2 separate regions of the Homo sapiens genome follow, and region 1 is linked to region 2. The links come from fine-mapping of genetic effects on gene expression. Tissue or cell type: whole blood. Region 2 holds a variant in brackets; the other region holds the start of a gene. All regions are shown on one strand. Distances are from middle to middle.

Region 1 (8,088 bases), 310 kb before region 2:
GCTTTTCTTTAGTGAGGGCTGCACTGACGGCAACTGGAGGCAACCTTGTCTTCAGGCTCCTGAGCCTGCAGAGTGAAGGCTGTGATCTGTCCTGTTCCATCTCTAAGCCACAGCCATCTGGAGCCCTGTTTATTTCAGCTATTAGCTGGGGCTTAGCTGGGGTTGGTTTAAAATCTCTGTTGCTCTGTCAACAGCACAGCATGGTGGTTATGAACGAGGCTCTCCATCCAGTTGTGTGGGACCACCAGTCCTGAGCAAGGTACTTCTCTGTGACTTAGCTGCCCAGCTGTAACCCAGGGAAGACTACAGCACTCACTCATAGGACTGTCCGGAGGATCAAATGAATTAGTATGCACCCGGCATAGAATAAGCACAACATATATGTTAGCCCTCATTATTAGTACCCTATTAGTATTTCAATTCCTTTCTTTTTTGTAATCATCTGACCAGTACAGCTGGAGATGACAGATCTTTGTTCTCTAGCTGAATTGTATACTTTCCCATCCAAACCCTGCCAGTGCATTGACTTCTGAAATAGATGATTTGCCTTCATTTCCAGAGCGGTGAGCAGAGATGTTCTCTGAGGTCTATTCAATAAACAGCTTACAGATGAAAGTGCTTTCCTTTGAATGGTGACATGTTCCTCTATCCAAAGATCTACTGTGACCCAAAGTGCTAGTCACCTCCCTGGGGACCCCTGATCTGATGACATTTCTACCTCTCATCCCCTGGCATGCTCTGCCCCAGACAAAGCCACCTTATAATATTTGAAATCGCAGCACCCGCTCCTGCCTCGAGAGCTCTGTCTCCAGATCCGTGTATGACTTGCTCCAACTCCAGGCCTCTAGTCAAGTGGCACCCCTAGAAAAGGCTCATGTCCATGGCAGCTAAAGTGACTCTCCCGCCAATCTTCCAGCCAGAGCAGGCAGCCAATTCACCTCATTTAACAGTGACGTCAAGTGACCTGCCCGTGGGCACCAGCTGTTGAGTCCTGGAGCCTGGCTTGGACTGAATGAAGTCTGCTGGCTCCCAGGCGCCTGTCCTCGGAAACACCTCCGAAAAGTCAAGGGTGGAGTGTGAGATCCAGAGAGGGGGCGCAGCAAAGCAGTGCCTTCCACTAAGGAAAAACAGAATGGCTGTGTATCGCAAGCACCTCCCGTTTGTCTTCATTCATTCATTTATTCATTCACTAATCCACTCGTACCAAGTACCTCCGATGTGCCAGACAGACAAACATGCAAACGGTGTCAGACACCCTACAGAGCTCAATAAATATTTGCAAAAGAAGGAGGGAGGGATAAGAAAAGCATTGTACCCACTCTGTCTCTCCCTCCTTTCAAAGCCACCATGCTTATCCCTCTGTGGCTGTCCCCTCACTGGTACACCGGGGGCCCGCTGTGAGCCCGATGGCCAATGGGGGACCTGTTTTCCTCCACACAGGGACTCAGCCAACTCCAAAACTTGTTAAGCAACTTGCCTCACTAGCAATAAATTAGGCGGCTCGCATGGTGCCAGCAACTCAGGACCCCGTGCGATGAGACCACAAACAGCGAGACCAGTAACAGCTGGCTTGTTTTGGACAAAAACATGCTTTTTCAATGTTGTCGCCTCACACCCAGATTATTGCAGTAGTCTAAACTCTCCACCCTGGATGCATTCCGCACTCCACTGCTAGGTCAGCCCTACACTACACTAGGCTTTGAGTTGCTCCAGTTCAAGAACATCTGCGCACAGGGCACGGGGCACAGCCAGCCTCTTCAGCCCTGGGACTCTGGGCCACCAGCCTGGCTCACTCCTGCTGCCCTCCCAAAACGTTCCCCAGCCACACTGATCTATTCACCTCCAAACAAGTCTTAGGCTTTGTGTATGCTGTTCCCAGCTCTGAGGGGGATGCACGTCCAGCCCACCAGGAAATTTACAGCACCTGACCCCTCTCCCACACCCTTGGAGTTAAGTGCTGGGCTGACTCCTCTGAATGAGGCTGTCTGGGTTTAAATTCCAGCTGAATGACCTTGGGCAAGTTTTTCAACCTTAGCTCCGCTATCTGTAAAACGGGAATGAGAAGCTGGGTGTGGTGGCATCCGCCTGTAGTCCCAGCCACTTGGGAGGCTGAAGCAGGAGAATCATTGAGCCCAGGGGTCGGAGGCTGCAGTGAGCCATGATCACACCACTACACTCCAGCATGGGCGACAGAGGGAGACCCTGTCTCTTAAGAAAAAAAAAGAGAGAGAGAGGAGCAACTGCCTCCTCGTTTGACCAAATGAGGTCACAGAGGTAACACACCCGGCACACAGACTGGGTGCTCAACAGACGTGTGCTATCATCATGCCCCTTCTCGAGTCTGCAGGATCACTTCTCTCCGGGACAACTCTCTACTGCCTGACTAGGCTGAGTTTCCCGAGGGCTGTGCTCCTGTGTTGGTGAAATACGCAATCTCGAATTTCACCCAGTTCGGCTCTGGCATCTTCCCGTCCACGTAAGCCAAACTATGCTAAGCCCTAGTTGGTCACACCGAACCATATTCCTATAAAGTAAACTCTAGACCAGTCCCTCTGCACTGTGCTCCCCTATGCCCCTCTCCTGGCACTGCCCGTGTTGAGGAGGCAGCACTGGGGTCCGGCAGCAGCGGCACGGCTGCGCCCAAGCGCACTGCCAAGCCCCGCTGTCTGGTTCCTACAACGCGGGGCTGGCCGCTGCTGAACTCGATATTATTTTTCCACATGGCCTCTGCCTGAAGATGAGGAGCATCTCTCCGGAAGGTCCCGCGAGAGAGTTAGACATTGCTCCATTCCACTCCTTCCCCCATCACCACCGTCTCCCCTGCCAGAACAGGTCCTGTGTGCGGCTGTAGGAACAGAGGGGTAGACTTCTTCCTCATCACTAACCCGGTCCCTTCTCCGCCTCTGCAGATTTCGTGATCCAAAGCCCGATTCAGCTTATTCAAAAGGAGCCACTTTCATTTTTGTAGGGCTGGCTCAAAACGAGGAAAGCAAGACAGGCAGCAACGCCGCCGAAACGAGAGCGGTGCCAAACCGTTCCCTGCTCGGGGTAGACTTTTTGGAGAAACTCCGGGGCGGGCCGGCAAACACTGTTCCTTTCCAAAAGAGTTACATACAGTTTTCACTGAGCGGTCCCGTGATCAAAGCAGTGAATTTTAAAGGGGACGGAGGACGTAAATAGAAGAAAAAGCAACCGAAATGACTTCTTGTGGTCCTGAAGCCGCTCTGCGAGGCGCCAATTCCCAGTCCTGAACTTCTCTCCTTCCTTTATGCCCCCATTCCTCTTATTTGTCCTGGGGTCCCCGCGCTGTGTGGTTGCCCTCAGGGCACTCCATGGCCGGTCGCCCGGCGTCTCGAGCCCCAGAGTGCAGGCCGGGCGTACTGGCATCGTCTGGGCGCAGAACCGGCCCCGGGCTGGGCGCGAAGCTCGGTTCCGAGGCAGCCCGCGGAAATCCGCCACCCCGGGGCCCACCTGCCTGTCCCCGAGAGTTGCCCTGGCCACCCCACAACGCTTCGCTGCCCCTCAACCTGCCCACCAGTCCCGCAGAAGCAGGTCCGAGCTGGGATGGAGAGAGTGGGGAGCTGCCCAGGAGCGCGGCGGAGTACCTTGGCCGCAGGCTCCGCGCTGCAGGACGATGACCGGCGGCCGGTGCAGCCTCTCGGAGCGGCGGCTGGCGGCGCGCAGCTGGCACAGGTTGGCGTAGGTGTTGGCGTCGCTGCCGCACACCGGCTCGCTGCTGGCGCACACACAGAGGCCGGCCTGCGCGCGCCGCCGCACCGTGGCCGAGGCTGGCACCCCGAAGGGCACCACGCACTGCAGCCCCTCGCCGCACGGGCCCTCCTGCAGGCCGCACGCGGCGCCCTCGGGCGCGCCGCACACCTCGCAGCAGCCGCACGCGTCCCGGGCCCGGCCGCCCTCGCAGTGCTCCGGCTGCGGCGGGCAGCGCGCCGGCTCGCAGCGGTCTGGGCACCCGGCGGCCAAAGGCGCCGAGCGGCCGGCCCGGGACAGCTGCGCCGAGGCGGGCGCCGCCAGCAGCAGCAGCAGCAGCGGGAGAAGAGCGGCGCGCGGGATCTGCATGGCGACTCTGGCGGCGGCGGCGGTGGCGGCGGACAGGGCGAGGGCCGGAGAGCGGCGCCGGGGAGAGTGCAGGAGGGCCTCGGGGGCAGCGGGTGCGAGTGCGCGCGGCCGCGCGGCCCAGCCCATTGGCCTCGCAGCGGTGACGAGCCGCCTTGGGGACGGGCACGGCGCCCGGGATGGGGGCTGGCCGGATGGCGGGAGGGAGGGCGGGCGGCTGGACCGGGACCGCCCGCGGAGGGGGCAGGGCGGGCGCGCCCGGGCACGGCGGTGCTGGCGGGGCGCGGGCGGGGCAGCGCACAGGCCGGCCCTCTCGCGGGACTCAGTTTCCCCGTCTGCGCGCCCCACATATTCGCTTTCCGCAGGTTCTCTCGCTGAGATTCGCGTCCTTCAAACTAATGGAACTTTGCAAGGGGGCCCTGCGGCGGCTTCGCGTGGGAGCGCCGGGGAAAGTTCCTGCAAATCGCCGGACTGGGGGCCCGCCCGGGAAGCTCGGACTGGGCCGGGCAGGGACTGCAGGGGCCTCTGCGCAGACCCGGGGCGTTGCGGCACCGCGGACCCCGGTCACGCGCTGGTTCTGCCCCCGGTACCCCGCACGCGGGACCCTGACCGCGGGGCCTCTGCGGCCGGACGAAGGCAGCGTCCGCGGAGCTGGCAGAAAGCCCGCGCCCAGACCCACAGTGAAGTGATAAAAGCAGAGAGCAGAAGTAATTCGAATAGAATCCTTCACACGTCTGATTCTTTTAAAAAGTTGTTGTGGGTGGCATGCGTGTCCGTATTCGCAGAGAGCCTAGGAAGCGGCTCGGCAGCTCGTAACTGGCGAGGGTGGAGCGGTCTCAGATGGGAAAGGGGTTTTCCCCTCTTTTGATTTTTCACCAAGTGCGTGATTATTTCAAAACACTTGTTATCAAAAATTTGATTTCCCACTGGAGAATCTTTGGTGCATCCGTTGGGACAGATGCGAGTCCGAGAGTCATCAGGAGGGCTGAGGGCGACCCTGGAGGTGGGTCTGGGTGCCCAGGCAGCACCAGGCCTGTGGGCAGTAGTCCTGGGTCCACACTGAGCAGATGGGCACAGCTCGTGTCCAAGGACCTGAGAGGAGGCCCTTCGTCCAGCCCTCATCCCGAACCCTCAAACCTCCACCCCCACCCTGGGCAGAGGCACCCAGGGTTGGGTGAGCCGGCAGAGCTGACTTTGGGATAGAGTAGCATGGGAGGGGGCTGGGGGCTTGGGGATTTTAATATTCTTCTGTATTTGGGTTGTTCCCTTGTGCACACGTTATTTTTCCAATACAAATAGTTTAAAAAGTAAACTCCAAATACCTATAAGCCCCCTCAAAGCACCTTCCAAATATGAACCTTGTTAATGCCCAAGGTCCAGAGGGGTCCCCCAGAAAGGCCCAGGAGCCTGGGGCATGGGAAAGCTGTCGGGGTCCCCATGCTGACTCCCTGGACTCCAAGCGATATTCCATAAAGCCAGGGCCTCCTGGCTGCGGGAGGGAGGCCTTGACCCAAAATCCATTCGGCCCTGGATACTGGAGAGGCAGAGGCCTCTGCTGATGAGAAGCCCTGAGTTCCTGGCTAGCTGTGGTTAACCACAAAAAATGCGGGGGGTGATGATTTTCGAAGTCCATCGGCAAAGAAAGACTCCCCACTGCAGTCCTGGGGCAGATGGAATTAAAAGGACACGTGGTGGTGAATAAATTGGTGATAACTTATTTTTGTCGAATTTCCTTATTTTACAGAGGAGAAAACTGAGGGCCAGAAAGGGTGACTCCCCTGAGTGTCATGCCACAAGTTGAGTGCTGGAGCCAGGACACCTTCCAAACCGGCTGTGCCTGCCTGCAAGCCCCATCCTCCTCCATCCCCCTGAGCAGCCAGACTGCAGAGGGAATGAGCGGACCGAAAACAGTGTGGCCGCAACTTCCCCACTGCTTTGCGGGAGGTGGAGGGAGTTTCTAGGCTCTTTCCCTGTTGGGGAATTAAGTAGCTGGGGATCCCACTGAGTCTCCACCACCCTCTCACCCATTTTCCACCCCTCCCCCACCACATATACATTCTGCTCCCCCAGTGCCAAATAACTTGCATTTTCTGGAACACACCTGTCTGCTTACGGTCTCTGTGCCTTTCTTTGCCCACATCTCCCCTCTTCTTGAAACACCCCTCCTCCCCTCCAGCGTGGGCTCATGTGACCTAGAGAAGCACGTGGGAGCCCTGTCATCTGGGGGACTTGGGTTCAAATCCCACTTCTGGTCCTTAAGTCTGTGACTCTGGGCCTTTGTTTAATAACTGGAGGAGTTTCATTAGGAAAATGGCAGTGACCACATATGTCCCTGGAGTGACTGATGTGCCACCCACAAGCTTCTATTTGGTCAGTGCTGGGTCCCATCGTCCCATCTAGCATGCTCCTCTTCCATCCTCGTGCCCCCACTCAGTGCCATTGTCTCTGCCTCTCACCCTCTGTGCTGCTATTCCTGCCCTCATCACCTCCTCCCTAGGGCAGAGGCCCCGTCTTCTTTACCATGCCCCAGTGCCAGCACAGTGCTTTGGCAAGTTATTCAGCACTGGGGGAGTAGAGTGTATGTGTGGTGGGGGAGGGGGTGGAGAATGGGTAAGAGGGTGATGGAGACTCAGGGGGACCCCCAGCTACTTAATACCCCTGAGGAAGTGTCGGCCGAAGTGGACCCACTCCTGTGACAGTTCACAGCCTAGAAGAGGCGTCTGTAACCACGGTGACCAGTAAGTGCCAGCCCTGGGGCCACGTGGCTGTTCTAGAGAAGGAAGACAGCACTACCCTGAGAGCCATGCTGGTGGCTTCATCAGGAAGGGAGTCAGCAGGGGGAGGACTGGGGGACCAAGCGGTCCCTAAGAAGCAGAATTTGCAATACCCAAGGTTTTAGAAAGAGCAACCTGGCAGGGCCACTGCACAATGAGATCACAGACTCACCTCCCAGCTGTGAGTGCAGCTCACCCCACCTGCTCTGACCCAGGCACCGGTTATGAAGAAGACAAGCAGCTCTACAGAGGGGCCTCAAGAAATCCTTCGAAACAGAAATCAAAGTCTTGCTGGAAGGGTTCTGGGCACCCTGGACTGTCCACATGGGAGGCTGTTGGTGCGTGTGCCTACGTGTGTCCATCAGTGGATGCACGAAGAAGGAAATGGTAAGTCCATTGAAACCTGGCCTCGTGGGCCCATCTCTGACCTTCCCTTAGTCCTAACGTCTCCATATCTGGAGGTAATGCTTTCAACCTGCAAGCGTTGCTCTTTCTTTTAGATTCTTCCCCATCTGCTGCCATTTATAAAGACGTTTTCTTAAAAGAAGCATTTTTCTTTTGATACATCATGAAAACTCATTTCTCACTCACCAGGCCTTGGCACGGTATTCTAGAGAGGATTTTTCCAGAGGAAAGGGGGCAGTTTTGAAGCCAAACAGACGAGTTCCCCAACATCCTCTCTGCAGCCCTCATTTGCAGCATTGAAGCTTTAGTTTTGAACAGGGCCAAGTCTATTCATGAATAATGAACAATGAAACACCACAGATGCCAGAGCCTTAATCAGGAAACGAGGCTTCTGAATAGGAATGGAGCAGCCATGTTTGTGCTGCCCAGGAGGACGATTTCCCACTCCGGGCCTCTGTTCTCCCAAATGTACAAAGGACCCAGAATGCTCAGGGGCTCCTATTGCCTTTCCTAAGTCACAGGATCTAAGATCTAAGGAGCTACAGTAATAATTTTGGCTCCTCCTATAAGCTTAGCCTATCCCTCTACTGCTCAGTAGTTTCCAGGGGCTCTCCATGCCAGTAGAATGAAGTCCAAGCTTCTTACCCTGACTTCCAGCGTCCCCCATGCCCCTCAAGCCAGGTTGTCCTCTAGATCCAGGGTGGTGTAATCCATCCCTACTCACCCATTCTCCCATAGCAACAGAACCCTGGCTGGGGCCATGCCAGCAGGTAAAAGATGACTTCTCAGCTGGTTTCACCCCCTTTCCTCAGAGTGCCAGACCCACTCCCATCCC
Region 2 (8,103 bases):
CGAGAGGATCACCTGATGTCAGGAGTTTGAGACCAGCCAGGCCAACATGGTGAAACTCTGTCTTTACTAAAAATACAAAACTTAGCCGGGCGTGGTGACCTATGCCTGTAATCCCATCTACTCAAGATGCTGAGGCAGGACAATTGCCTGAACCTGGGAGGCGGAGGCTGCAGTGAGCCGAGATCACACCACTGCACTGCAGCCTGGGAGACAGAGCAAGTGAGACTCCGTCTCAAAAAAAAAAGAAAGAAAGAAATATATATCAAAAGCATTGCTCTCAGTGCCTGGTACATAGAAAGTACTCAGTAAAGGCCAGATGTTATCACAAGAGGAAGAAAACTAGAGCCACTCTGTGATGCTCCAGGGAGAACCTGAAACCTAATCCCAGTCAGAGCCTATTATGTTGCTCTCCACCCTTTTCTCCACAAGGTCCCAGTTCCCACCCTGAGTCCTGCCAAACAGTGCTGCAACAGTCAGCGTTCTGGCCACAGAGAGTGAGGATGCAGGATGGCTCGGCCCATTTCCCCAACTACGTCAGTCTGGACAGATGTCTCAGGCTGTGTTGGCAGAGGCACTGCTGGTACCACGTGCCAACCTCGGGACAAGCTGCCTCCTCTTGGAAATGAAGCAGGGACGATGCACCAGGGAATCATGTCATCAAGTCAGCCGTGTCAACACGCGTTTATGGAATGGAATGGAATAGAGTATCACTGCAGCCCACCAAGTAAGGGAAGGTCCGTGCCAATCGTGGACACATATGGGGTTAGTACATGTGTACTGGCCACAATGTTAAGCTTCTCCCTGTGGTTTGAGCAGAGCCGCTCTGGCCAGACTGCAGGTCCTCCGACCTGGGAGACTTCCCCCTTTCATTTGTGTTTGCTTATTTCTTTTTGTTGTTGTTGTTGGATCTTCCATCCCTCTTTAAGAAATCATTCTGATTTTATTCATTGGCTTTCAGCTCCATTATCTAAACCCAAGAAAGGCAGGCAGGACCCTGTAATTCTTTCTGCAAAGCCAGGAAATGATGCTCAGCAAGACGGTATTTAGACAGAGATGGGAGCAGGGACACCAAGGTGGGGCACAAGGTGGGCAAGTCATCCTCAAAGAGCCACCATCCTTTGCCTCTTAGCCCAGGAGAACACTCCAAGGTCTCCATGTTTGGTGGAGCCACATGGGGAATTATACCCTTCTGGCCCTGGGCCCCAGCCTTGGGCAGTAAGGGGAGGAAATGCTGGTGCCAAGCCCCAGGCCCTGGGCAACTTCTCCCAGCGAGCCCCTGCCCAGAGTCACAGTCCAGCCTGGGAGTAGTCACCTCCGCAGTGTCACCCTCAGACATACTGTGGCCCACGTTGCAGGGTCACCACTGTATCCCAGCACCTGCCTTCAGCCTTGCACAGAGCAAATGCTCAATCAACGTTGGTGAATGGATGAATGCAAGGCACAAAGACAGACCCAGGTCCCCTCCATCCCCACGGCCACTGCTTTAGTTCAGGCCACCACTGTCTCCCACTTGGACCACAGGAACAACTTCCACATGGCCCTCTGACCTCTGGCCTCTCCTCCACCCACCCTCCTCCTCGCCACCAGAGATATTTCCCCAAACTAAATTCCATCCTGACTCTCCCCTGCTTGAAAAGAGAAGACATGTTTCTTTGCACTTCTTTGGCACCAGCAAACTCCCCAGTCTGGCTGCAGGCCCCTCTAAATCTGAGGACCATGGCCACCTTGGCTGCTCACCCTGCTGCTCTGTCTGAGACCGCCGTACCTCCCTCTAGTCCCTCCAGTTCCTCTCTGACCTGCTGCCTGAATCTGCTGGGCCTCGCCACACCCCAAGCTTTGGCACATTTGGTTCCTCTTCCCTGAAGCACTTTTGCCCTTCTTTACCCTCAGCAAACACCTAGCCATGCTGCAAAACTCAGTGGTGATGCCGCCTCCTCTGGGAAGCCTTCCCAACTTCTCCAGGCAGAGTCAGGTGCTCCCTTCTCTTGAGTCTTTTGTTCTCAGCTCTATTGGAGAGTTTATCAGGTTGTACTATGTTAAGTTTATCATGTTGTATTTTTCTGTTTCCAGAACAGCTGTCTCTGTCTGCCTCCTTTTCCCCATCACTGCTGGGAGTTGGAGTGGGGGGAATGTGAATTCAATGCCTCCTACTTGTCAAACACTGAGCTACATTCTTCATGTACATTTACTACTCACAATAACCCCCAAGAGGTGGGTACTACTAGCCCTATCTTAAAGATGGGTAAACCAAGGCTCAGAGTAGTCAAGTAACTCATGCCATGTCACACAGCTGGTAAATAGGCCTGTCTTTCCAACTTCATGCTCCTTCCCCTGCGCCACCTTCCGAATAGTCCGTGGCATAGAATCAACCGGGATGTATCTGCCGAGAGGCTGGCTGGCAGGATCAAAAAATGCAAACAAAGCAGAAGAAAGGACCCAGGAACGCTGCATGACTCCACCTAGACTCCAGCGCTCAGCAGGTCCTTCTCCTGACAGCGAAGTATTAAAGAAACTGGCTCATCAACACGGCGAGGCACTCGGGCATGGTGGGGTCCTGAGCCGCACATGCTCGTACCATATCCCATCCTACCCCACCTCCCTGGGCCCTGCCTCCCTTGGTTTGGGGGTCTATTTCTCCACCACCTTTGGGGCACTCTGTGACCAGCCGTCTCCTGGCCACCCCTCTTTCTGCACCTCCACTGGGTCTGAGGGCTGGAGAGCACGCATTTGGCTTGGAAGGAACGCAGCCTCCCGCAGGGCAAGCACCTAAAACCATCAAGTGGAAGCCGAGGGCCGTCCCTGGGCAGCCGTGCTCGGGGAGGAGGGTGGGCTCCTGGCCTCAGCTGCCCCTATTCAGGGCAAGAAGGGCCCCCACACTGCCCTGGAACCTTCCACCCACCAGTGCTGTGCTGAGCACGTCCAGCCACGCCCTCACAGATGCCTGCCCATATGTTCCTCCCTGAGCCCCATTTCAGGGCGGGATCCCCTTCCCAGCTGCTCTAGGGGCCGTGGGACTGCCGCCCAGATGGCGTCACAAGCTGAAGCTTTGCAGCTTCTCCCAGCTGTGCCCCCAGAGTAGGGCCAGGGAGCCCCGCTGCTGCCGGCTCTCCTTCCCCTCCCCTCCCAGAAGGAGGAAAAGAACTGCAGACCTGGGCCCACGGAACTGAGGGAGCCACCATCTAACTGACGCCCTCTGCTCCTGCTCCTCAGGCTGAAGCCAGCGGGACAGCCCAGCACCCACTCCGCGGCAGCTCACATTTCGGAGACTGAGCGGGAACCAGGGGACCCATCAATGCCTCCGCGCGTCTCACCGGCCGGTGACGTGGCTCAGCGTAGTTATGCTCAGTCTGCCCCGGACCCAGTGGGCCTCAGAGGCAAGAGAACAATGGAAACTTGACCTGCGTAACCAAGGAATGATGCCACGAGAGCCCAGTTTGGTCAGCGCAGAGTCTAATCCCCGGAGACCCTCAGCCCAACAACCCAGCCCCTTTCCCTAGTGAGGCAGAGAGGCTCATCTGCACCCCGCCTACAAGGCAAAGTGCCGCGCTGGGGAGCGGACTGGCGAACTGGCTCCAGAGCGAAGATGCATCATGTTTTCCAAAGGGCTGACTTCTCTAACTCGGGTGGAGGGAATGGGGAGGTTTCTGCCCTTCCCCTCCTGCGCAGGAAAAACTCTGGAGTCTTGGAGAAGTGTTGACAGAGGGAAGGGAGCAATTTGGGGCAGCTGCCCAGGGCGGGTGGGGCCGGGAGTGTGGGGGCACCTCACAGGAAAGCCTGAAGAGCCAACGCCACAGCCGCCACAGTCTGCAGCTCAGGGTAGCATTTCTCAAGGGGTGTCTCCTGGGCCTCCTGCCCAGCACCGGGGATCCGGCTTCCTCCTCCCTGCAAGAAGCTCAGCTGCTTCTCCCATCCCGTTTCTCCCGCGTCTATCCAGACAGCCCTTGGCCAGGTTTCCAAGTCACCAATTCCTAGGGGACAGCTGTCCGCAGCAGGGAGTGAGAGGCCAACTCTGAACAGAGATGATGCTTGCGTGGGCTCACACCCACACCCACTCAGCTCATGTCCAACACACCAGGCTCTTTGCCACAAGCTCTCAGAGGTCAGCTGTGGCTGCCTTGGTGAGGTGAGGGCTTTCAGCTTGTATTCCTGGAAATTCTTATTATCAGACCCCTCGCCTGGCTTCAGCCTCGTACAGCTCTCCAAAGAGCTGACAGCTCTGGAAAAGTCAGGGTGACCTGCTGACCCCACAAAGCCTCAGGAGGGCTACGATGGAGGGGAAAGGAAGGCCCATCAGAAGCGTGGTGACTGCAGCAATGGTCTCCCTCCCAGGCAGGGATAGGAGGCAGAGACTTGAAGCTCTCTCTCCTTCCCAGAACCTCACTTTTCTCCCTCTCAAAGTCACATCTGTTCTCCCCAAGGCCTACGGCCTAATGATTACCAATGAGAGTGGGGGGAGGGGAGTGTGAAAACTCCTGGAGAAAAGCCATTTGCACTGGAAACGTGGGATTGTGTCATCGTTTCCACAGCAGCCGCAAGAAGCAGGAAGAGGCAGCAGGAAGT[C/T]ACCCAGCATGTTTGCAAGAACAGAGCATCTGTCAATTCTGTAATAAGATGTGCCCTGGGCTTTCTTTGTCAATACACCAGGTCTCACTGCCTCGCTGCTCCCCTCCAAACCCAAAGAGAGAAGACAAAGCCACAGATATGGCGGGCACTGCAGCTGCCTGCGCATAACACCCAGAAGGCACGCTGGCTCCAACAGGCGATGCCTGGCTGGTGGCAGGAACCCATGGAAGACGTATTTCCAAAATCAAGAGTCCATCCAGGACCTCAAATTCTGGCCCAGGGCTGGGCATGGTGGCTCACGCCTGTAATCCCAGCACTTTGGGAGGCTGAGGCGGTCGGATCACCTGAGGTCAGGAGTTCGAGACCAGCCTGGTCGACATGGTGAAACCCCATCTCTACTAAAAATACAAAAATTAGCCAGGCATGGTGGCGGGTGCCTATAATCCCAGCTACTAGGGAGGCTGAGGCAGGAGAACTGCTTAAACCCGGGAGGCGGAAGTTGCAGTGAGAAGAGATCACGCCATTGCACTCCAGCCTGGGCTATGAGAGCGAAACTCTGCCTAAAAAAAAAAAAAAAAAAAAAAAATTCTGGCTCAGCCTGGGTGAATAACGACTTCCATTTCAGTGAAATCAAATGTTCAACCTTACATTTTCGAAACTTGCTTTGAAAACCTCCAGGAACTCATCCAAAGGGAAAAAACACGGTTGATTGGATCCCTGGATCCAGGCCATGGCCGCATGGTTGAAAGCAGCTGTGGAGAGAGTCGAGGTGGAGAGTGCACTGAAGGTGATGGAACCACAGCTGTCAGGGAGCCCCAGGAAATGGGGGCCTCAATCCTAAAACCACTCCTGTCTTGGCAGGCAGCTGGCCAGGTCTTTAACAATGCAGATCCGATCGTATCACTGTACTGCCTGGGGGCTTCTGGACACTCTTAAAAGAAAGCCCAAGGAGCCCATGACCAAAGCTGCTACAATTGGAGCAATGAAATAACGTAGTATTGGGTTATAACCCAAAGAATAAAATGAATATCCAGGAGTCCATGCAGATATAAATACATGATTGAATCAATTAATAAATGAAGGAGAACAGAAAAATCTCCTGTGCAGAAAAACTCTAAATAATTTCTGTAGATGTTCCACCCTAACAGAGGAGGAGCACAACTCTCCACCCCTTAAATGTGCACACAGTGACTTCCTTCCACAGACGACAGTACTGAAATGGGGGAAAAAAAGGAACTTGGCGGGGCGCAGTGGCTCATGCCTGTAATCCCAGCACTGTGAGAGGTCAAGGCGGACGGGTCACTTGAGGTCAGGAGTTTGAGACCAGCCTGGCCAACATGGTGAAACCTTGACTCCACTAAAAATACAAAAATTAGCCAGGCGTAGTGGCGGGAGCCTGTAATCCCAGCTACTCAGGAGGTTGAGGCAGGAGAATCGCTTGAGCTTCTGGGGTGGAGGTTGCAGTGAGTGGAGATGGCACCACTGCACTCCAGCCTGGGTGACAGAGTGAGACTCTGTCTCAAAAAAAAAAAGTAACTTTACAGTGGAGACAGTCAACAAACATGACCTCAGCCAAGCAACTGAGGTCAATGTCAGCAGTGATATGTCATGTCGATGGTATGTACCCTTGATAGGATGTGATGAAAATGACACTTGATCTCTGTTCTTCCTCCCAGAACCCACAGGCCCAGTCCAATCATGAGAAAAGCATCAGACAAATTCCAATAGTGGGGCATCCTACTAAATACCCAACCAGAACTCCTTAGAACTGTCAAGGTCATCAGAAACAAGACAAGTCTAAGAAGAAACAGCCACAGCCAAGAGGCACCTACAGAAACAAAATGGAAATGTGGTTTCCTGGATGGGATCCTGGAACAGAAAAAGGACATTAGGGAAAAACTAAGAAAACGTGAATCAACTATTGTATTAGTTCATTTTCTGTTGCTTATAGCAGAATACCTGAAACTAGATAACTTATAAAGAAAAGTAGTTGTTTTCTTACAGTTATGGAGTCTGAGAAGTCAAAGGTCAAGGGGCAGCATCTGGTGAGGGCCTTCTTGCTGGTGGGGACTCTGCAGAGTACAGAGGTGGTTCAGGGTATCCTATAACGAGGGGGCTGAGTAAGCTAGCTCGGGTCTTTCTTCCTCTTCTTATAAAGCCACCAGTCCCACTCCCATGATATCCCAGCAATCCATTAATTCATGAATGGATTAACCCATTCATGAGTGCAGAGCCACATAACCCAATCACCTCTTAAAGGCCTCACCTCTCAATACTGCCAGATTGGGGGTTAAGTTTCAGCATGAATTTTGGAGGCAACAAATACTCAAACCACAGCAACTATAGACTTTAGTTATTATAATAAAGATGTATCAATATATTGATAACTTTTTTTTTTTGAGATGGACCTCAGGGTCCATGCACATGCTGTTTCTCCCCAACAATATCTATTCTCTTCTGTATCTTCAGCAACCTCCGGCCCAGCCCACACATAAACCCACTCAGCCTAAGCTCTCAGTCGATTCCCTGGGAAGCCATCCTCAGCTACCCAGACTAAGTGAGGTTGTGGGTCGCATCCATCCAGGGTGCTGCACTTCTCCCCTAGTAACTCATTGCTCCATGTCTATCTGCCAGCACTGGATGCTCCTTGAGGGCAGGACGGTGCCTGTCTTCCAGACCTCTGTGTCCTGTCCCTAGCACAGTGATTGGCCCAGAGTAATCCCAAGTTCATGTTGCTGAATGGCTCAGATGTGTAAATGAATGAGATTCAGAAGCAACCCACACAGAGTGGGCTCCAGGGCTAAAGGTGAGATCACCCAGTGTGCCTTCTATGACAGGTTGAGAGCCGTGAGCCCATCTGACCTCAGGAAAGAAAGACATAGAGCAAATGGGTACCACTTGTGTCTGCTGGTGCCAGGAGGCACCAGAGATGCTCTCTGACCCTAACACTGCATCAGCAAAAGGTCTGAAGGTTGAAATTTTTATTTTAGATTTCATCAAAAATCTACTCTAGCCCTTGGATAAGTTCTTTTAAAAAAAATGAGGTATAACTTACATACCAAAAAATAGTAAAATTCACTCTTTTTAAGTATATAGTTCCACAAATTTTACAGAACATTTCCATCACCCCCCACAAAGATCTCTTCATGCTCATTTGTAGTCAATACAAATCCCAGCCCCCAGTGCCCACTGATCTGTTTTCCATTCCTTATTGTTTTGCCTTTCCCAGAATCTCATCTAGACTGAATCATGTAGAATGTAGTCTTTTGAGTCCAGTCTTTCTCACTTAGCCTAATGCATTTGCGATTCATCAATTTAGTTGCATGAATCAATAGCTTGTTCCTTTTTATGGGTGAGTAATATTCCTTGGCATAGATATACCACAATTTGTTGATCCTTTCACCAGTGGATAGATATCTGGGTTGTTTCAAATTTGGGGCAATTATGAAGAATACATGCATACAAGTTTTTAGGTAGACATATATTTTCATCGTTCATAGGTAAATATCTAAAAATGGGATTGCTGGGTCATATTGTGGATTT

What was found. PIP is the estimated chance that this variant, and not a neighbour inherited with it, causes the effect.
Region 1: it holds the start of HTRA1, and the variant in region 2 is fine-mapped to the expression of HTRA1 in whole blood (TOPMed, PIP 0.97).

The regions. Positions count from the first base shown.
Region 1 is chr10:122,457,642-122,465,729 of GRCh38, reverse strand. HTRA1 (HtrA serine peptidase 1) reads right to left here and starts at 4,177. Exons shown (of 9, transcript NM_002775.5): 1 at 3,606-4,177. The coding sequence starts at 4,077. HTRA1-AS1 (HTRA1 and ARMS2 antisense RNA 1) reads left to right here and starts at 4,325. Exons shown (of 3, transcript XR_946382.3): 1 at 4,325-4,781; 2 at 5,819-7,235.
Region 2 is chr10:122,145,141-122,153,243 of GRCh38, reverse strand. The region is part of intron 7 of TACC2 (transforming acidic coiled-coil containing protein 2); the gene reads right to left. LOC124902518 (a long non-coding RNA gene) reads left to right here. Exons shown (of 2, transcript XR_007062323.1): 1 at 1-724; 2 at 6,237-6,940. Among named protein-coding and RNA genes, the nearest start is that of BTBD16, 120 kb to the left of the region's middle. The variant C/T (reference allele first, on the strand shown) is at 4,561.